Linked DNA regions of Homo sapiens: region 1 is reported to be linked to region 2. Evidence: microRNA targets listed by miRTarBase, many of them from high-throughput screens and not tested one by one. Region 2 holds a microRNA gene; the other region holds the end of a gene's coding sequence.
Evidence for each region. Region 2 holds the annotated microRNA hsa-miR-3147 (GGUUGGGCAGUGAGGAGGGUGUGA, at 1,196-1,219, opposite strand). A microRNA usually pairs through its seed, bases 2 to 8, with sites in the 3' UTR of a target mRNA and lowers its output. Matches are read on the target gene's strand: a 7mer-m8 pairs with bases 2 to 8, a 7mer-A1 pairs with bases 2 to 7 and ends in A, and an 8mer does both.

Region 1: the mRNA of ST8SIA3 is a reported target of hsa-miR-3147. Seed matches in the 3' UTR shown: 7mer-m8 at 2,019-2,025.

Annotation. Positions count from the first base shown.
Region 1 is chr18:57,359,691-57,363,216 of GRCh38, forward strand. It overlaps ST8SIA3 (ST8 alpha-N-acetyl-neuraminide alpha-2,8-sialyltransferase 3), which reads left to right. Exons shown (of 4, transcript NM_015879.3): 4 at 305-3,526. The coding sequence ends at 587. Among named protein-coding and RNA genes, the nearest start is that of ST8SIA3, 8.9 kb to the left of the region's middle.
Region 2 is chr7:57,403,249-57,406,248 of GRCh38, reverse strand. It overlaps MIR3147 (microRNA 3147), which reads right to left and starts at 1,224; the gene lies at 1,159-1,224. MIR3147HG (MIR3147 host gene) reads right to left here and starts at 1,482. Exons shown (of 3, transcript NR_120505.1): 1 at 1,254-1,482. LOC105375299 (a long non-coding RNA gene) reads left to right here and starts at 2,130. Exons shown (of 2, transcript XR_927305.3): 1 at 2,130-2,193.

The DNA of each region.
Region 1 (3,526 bases), not on the chromosome of region 2:
AGTGTGATCCCAGGAAATCCCATGCTCAGAAGGGCCCAACACTTGGTTTAATACTTTGCTCTTGCACTCGAAATTTTCAATACTTTTTGAACCAAGACTCCACATTTTTATTTCTTACTGGATCTCACAAATTATGTAACCAGTTGTGCCCAGAAGTTGTTTTTGGTTGCCTAAAATATAATTTCAAAACAAGCACTATTTAAGTTACAGTAACAAATCCACTACCCAGCCCAGTCAGATAGACCTTGCTGATTGAAACTTTCAACGCTGACCTCTGAATCCAAATGTACTTATTGTTCCACAGGTACTGGAAAAACAAACATTTGTCACCTAAACGGCTGAGCACAGGTATTCTTATGTACACCCTTGCATCAGCAATATGTGAAGAGATCCACTTGTATGGATTTTGGCCGTTTGGATTTGACCCCAACACAAGGGAAGATCTTCCATACCATTACTATGACAAAAAAGGAACCAAATTTACCACCAAGTGGCAGGAGTCCCACCAGCTGCCTGCTGAGTTTCAGCTGCTGTACCGAATGCATGGGGAAGGGCTCACCAAGCTGACTCTGTCACACTGTGCCTAAGAACTCCAAACGGAAAGCGCCAAATGGCTGTTTAAAAAGTGCCCCAAATCAAATTGAATAGCCTTCAGAATAGAACCCTAGAGAATGTCTTATAAGGATTGTCTGCCATTTAAAAGGAAAGATGTCTTTTCTCTTTTGCACTGCTCTTTTAAGAGTTTTAGCAGATTTAGCAGGACAGATGCATTGAAGCCACATGGTTTAGACTTGATTGATAAAGGGAATGTTGCATTTGGGACTATGCTGCTAACGAAATGGTTTGAAGTATTTTCATGTTTGGATTTTAATAATAAACTGCCTCTCATTTTTATGAGGACTAGAGCTATAGTTTCTGCAGCTCTGCTCAGATAGTCCTCATAATCAGAGGCCTCTGGCCAACTGGGGCAGGACCTGTTTTGCTGGTGGGATCAGACTCTGAAAAATGGAAACGTAAAAAACTGGTTTGCATATCTCATCTTCTATCTATCTCCCTATCTCCATCTCTATCACCATCTCACTCCTTCCCTCTGCAACTACTCCCTGCCCTACCACCGTGGAGTTTAATAATTTGCTAGGAATCCTATTGAATTCGCTTTGCTTGTATATGTTGCATTTGTACTTGATGTGTTTAAGGTTCTGGGTAACTTTGATGCTTCATGACAAAATAGGCAAATCACGATGGACTCCCTTGTGATTCCTTTTTTAAAGAAATGCCTCTGATGCAGTCCTCACCAGTCCATTCAGTCATTCTACAGCAAGATGGTCCCTCTGTGGTGAGTGGGATATAAGGCAGTGCATCTTTCATGATCACAAAGAAAGCCTATGTTGTGGATAGCATTGCGTCTCTTGATGTAGGCATTGTTATGGCAAATAATAGCACTGTGGCCACATCTGTAAGGCCATTCCAGCCTAAATTTAGTGTCTCCCATAATCCCAACCCATGCACTAGGCTGGGTGTTCTCTCAGAATATAGAGGCAATGAATCAGCTTAAGACCCTGGGACACACAAAGGAAAAGGAAGAAGAATATTTAGAAGTTGTTATGGAATCCTGTGTACCCTAAAGTGTGGTAACCATGTTACCCATTCCAGCTGGGTTAAAGTGGAGGAGGATCTTGGCCAGGCCAGGTGCCCAGGTGACTAGTGCTGAGGTGCGATCGTTTTCCGTATCATTGTGTGCACCACCACCAATCCAGAACCATTTGCTCTCTTTGAGAACATTGTAGCACTGGATATTCCCTCTTTCCACTGAAGTCAGATCTATACAACTACAAATTAAGCATTTCAAAAGAAAAAGCCATTGTGCAGTGGCAAGAGTTGGAATCCAAGATTATGTAGACCTGCGATGAAGGAAGTAGCTGGCCATTCTCATTTTCTTTATTTCAGCCATATGAGTAGAAATCAAATCATTCCCATCCCTGGCTTTTTACTGAGCAGCACTTTGTTCTTCCAATTCAGCCCAACGTCTGGCCAAGTTGATGTTAAATTTTAATAAGAGTTTCTTTCTTCTTTCCAAATGCCAGTCAAGCATATTTGTTATGCATTTGAGTGGGGTAGCTCATTCTTTTCCTGAAATCTCATCTAGATTGCTTGCAATGCGACAAATAACTGTTTAAAAAATGTGCTGTAGTTCAGTGATGAGCTCATTGCCCCTCTTTAGGAAGGTAAGATCATGCCTAAAATTAAACCGAATATGGTAAGGAAAGACACTATCGTTATGCTCACGTTCTGCCTGGTCCTAAACCTGCCTTATTATTATTTTCAGAAAGCAATCTAATTAGAGCAACTTGCATAGATCTAGATATTAACTAATGAAAGAAACACCAAGTTCAAATGTGTTACCAATTATGACACACATTACAATATAATTATAAGGGGAGACATTAAAAACATTTTGTAATTCAGTGGTATAATTTGATGGGTATCACAACCACACCGTGTTTGTTCCCTGTCCCTTTGAAGAGGACTGTACTACCATCCTCACACTGTGCTCTGTTGGGATCACTGAGAGATTGACAACTGACAGAAGTGTTTAGTTGGCTGTTCCTGAGCACTTAGTTCATTTGGTTATAGCTAAGTGATATTAATGCCAATATTACTTGGGCCAGATTCTGACTCTGGAGTTTTAATCCCAATGTGCCCATTCATTTTCACTAAATATAAATGCATAGACACTTTAAACCAAGAAGATTAAAAGAGGAAAAGACCAGAATCTCTAAAAAACAGTTTACTGTTCTGTAGTGGACAATTTAAATTTTATCTCATCATAATGCCAAGGATTTTTGTTTGTTTTTTAAGTTCAGGGAGATTTTTTAAATCTCCTTGCAGTCTTGGCTCCATCTTAACCTTAGAGTGGGAGGACTTTCCCATCCCCCACCACCGTGTTATCTATCACTTTAATGAAAACTCAAAATAGTGAGGAAATGGACTTTTCTTCAGAACTTGAGGGGTTTAGAGATCAGGCTCATCTCTGCTTATAAGGAGGACTTCCTGGAGATGATCCCAATAGATCACCCTTCACTTTTGAAGAATAGCAGCTTCTAGCTGACCATGCAAAATCTCTGTTTGTTTTTAAAGACTGTTTCAAAGATTAAATCTATACAACCACTTTTATGACCAAAAAAGTTGTTGTGTCCCAAGTGTCCTAATTAGAAAGGCAGCTGGCTCTCCTGCAGCTCCCAGGCTTGTGTAGTCAAGTGCAGTGAACTGGGCAGTAATCAGCTCAGGACCATTGGCTCTTTCCTCCTCTTTCAGCTACAGACACATGCCCTGGCTTTTGCATTGACCTTGCTTTGTTAGTTCTAGACTAATTTATCCTTTTGTCAGACACTTTCCCTTTTTTAGGATACTCACAACAGAGTCCACTTTCAGCTATTGGAATACATTTTACCATAAAGCCCCCAAGGCTTTCTACCCATAACACCAACACAAAAAACCAATTAAGTTGCAGAGGGGGGAAATAATC
Region 2 (3,000 bases):
CTGTGGTCTCCCTATACTTCACCTCACCACATCCATAGATGCCACATGGTTCTTGTTCCTTTATTGACAAAGGTGCTGATGAGCCCGTGTGTAATTGATCCTGAAGGAGTAAATTCTTCACAAAGTACAATAACAGTGTCTAATATCCATGACCAGAGTTTTTAGGCTTTTTTAAAATAGTAATCCGCATTCAGGAATCAGAAATGAAGCCTGTTGGAATGTGTGATATGAACAAGGTCTTATTTTTATGTAGATTAACACCTTGGTTTTTACGGATTAAACACAAAAGCATAAAAGCTGGAGCCATTCCAGAATCAAAGGAACTTTCCCTGAGGACACCTGGAATTAAGGGACATCAATTATTAGGAAGCTACACGAAACCAGAAGTGCTCCCAGAAGTTTCCATTGTCTGGACAGAAAAATTAAACAGATCAGCCCGAGAGAGTAAAGGTACCTCCGTGAGTGCCGGGGGTGATGAACATTCCATTCAAAGCAAAGTTGTGAAGCCTGAGGAGTTTCAAAGACTCCCCAAGTGCTCTATACCTTGAAAGTCGCTCACACAAAGCTGGAGCACCACCTGTTCCTGAGAATCAGGTTGCCATTGTGTCTTTGAGACACTGCCCAGTCAGGCCTCGGTTGAGATGAGGCCAATGATGTCACGTGTAAAATGCCTAAACTATCTTCATCTTTAGGTAGCTATTTGGGGAACTTTCCACCAAATGGGTTGGGGGAAAATGGCGCACCAGAGACACACGCCTGGGATGTGAGATTTTCTCTTCTGCTGTTAGCATCTCCTGGGTAAACCAATAATGACCCTCTCTGCCACCTCAACATCCACATCCGCGAAAAAGGCGCTGGTGAGGGTGACATTTTCATGAAGCCACAGAGCATGTTGCCCCACGCAAAGCTCTGAACTTGTGCACTGGCGGGCCGGGCGGCGGATTTCTCCCCATAGCGGCTGCACTGCGCTCTGGCTGGAGAGAAAAGAGGGCAGCGGCACAGTGGACAGTGCCTGGACCGCAGGCCAGTTCCCACAGCAGCTTAGGAAAGCAGGTGGCTCCCTGGGCTGGAGGAGGCGTGATGTCCAGGAAAGACCCCGGGTGCAGGTGGGAGAGGGAACCCAGCCTAGCAGCGGGAAGTGAGGTGAGGACCACACCCGTCCGAGTTGGACAAGGGCGAGGTGCACTTCGCGGCGTCACACCCTCCTCACTGCCCAACCCGGACCTGCCCCTCCTGTCCCTCTCCGGACTCACATCCCATGGCAAGGAGGTGTCCGAAATCAGTAGCCAGCATCGCTGTGGAAGCGGCGAGATCCACACTGCCCTGCCCAACCCTCTTGGGCTGCCCGCCTTCTCGCATATCGCCTGCTAGGATTCTAGTCCAGCCGCCTTGCCACCAACGGGCGGGGAACCGTTAAGAGCTACAGTTTCCAGCCTGCGTGGCCAGGAGCGCACCGCCCCGCTCCTCCCGCAAGAACTGCGCCCCGCCCCTGAGACCGGGGCATGCTGGGATTGCAGTCCCGAAGCGCTTGAAACAACGGGCGGGAGCGGTGAAGAGACTACAGCTCCCAGCATGCAGAGCCAGGCCGGCAGAGCCAGGCCGGCACAGCCCGGCTTCCCCCTTCAGGACTGCGCGCCGCCCCATGTTCATGCTGGCTGGGATTGTAATCCGGTCGCCCTGCAATTAAAAAACTGGAAGCTAATCAAAGATGACAAGTCCCAGTATGCCAGGCGTAGCTCCCGCCCTCCAATCCACACCTTCCCGAGTCCAGAGCAGTTCTGCCATGCCAAAGGGGAGCCTGGTTGTTCCCGAACCTCTCTTGCCTGCCAAGTGACAGCGAGACCAGGCGGCTTGTCTTATCGTGTAATTATGTCACTACCTCTCCCTGAGATGCTGGCTTCATGCTTCGTCATTGCCAGAAGTTTGATTTCTCACGGAGCAGCAGGGGACCTGGAGCTACTCGCAAAGCTGTCACGGTTGCCATATCTTGGAGCAGTACTCGCCCCGCCCCTTCTCCTCGCCCCGCTCCTTCCCTCTGCGCTGCCTCTCCCCTCGGCACCGCCCCTCCGTCTCGCCCCACCCCTGACACGCCCCCTTTGAACATGCGCAGTGTAGTCCCTGCGTAGGACGGGCTAATCGCCAGGTGTCTGACTGTTCTCCGACTTCTTGGCATCCTACGCGGGAAGCTCCCTCGTGAGTGTCTGAAACCGTCCGTTCGCTGCCAGAAATGGATATATGCGTTCCCTGATAACCTAGCACTTGCCTTTTCAAAGCCACCATTTCCTCTATCCTCTAGGCTGTCGCAAATCCTCCTGTTCATCCCAGGAGTGCCCCTTGGACCCCGGGCTGGCTGCATGACCCACACCTGGGTCAGGCCTCTCACAGGGACGCTCCTGCCACTCTGACAAAGAGTTGAAAACGTCACAGCGAAAGGCCTGACCCTGCTGCATCCAGTCAGGAAACAGCCACAGGGAAGGGAGCCCCTAAGACACTTTGGGAGCCACATCCACCGCTTCTCTGCCCCCGATCCAGGCTGGTTCCCAGACCTTGGGGTCCTAGTGTGGACCTCCCGGCCGTAATTAACGCAGGTGCAGGGCCAGAGAGCCCCTTGGTCCCTCCCAACACATAAGGGAAGTTTGTGTGGTGAGGTCATGAACAGTGTCTGCGTTTCTGCTGTGAATAGGACCTTCATGGAAACACTTAATTTCCCTTTTTAAATATCCCTTTGGAACCACGTTTAATAATTTGCTGGTGGAACTTAACAGTGATAATTCTTTGAATCCATTTTTCTTTTTTCTTTTTTTGACACGGAGTCTCACTCTGTAGCCCAGGCTGGAGTGCAGTGACTGACTCGATCTGGGCTCACTGAAACCTCCGCCTCCTGGGTTCAAGCAATTGTTCTGCCCCAGCCTCCCCAGTAGTTGAAATTACAGACACCCGCCACCTTGCCGGGCTAATTTTTGTATTTTTAGTACAGATGGGGTTTCGCCATGTTGGCCA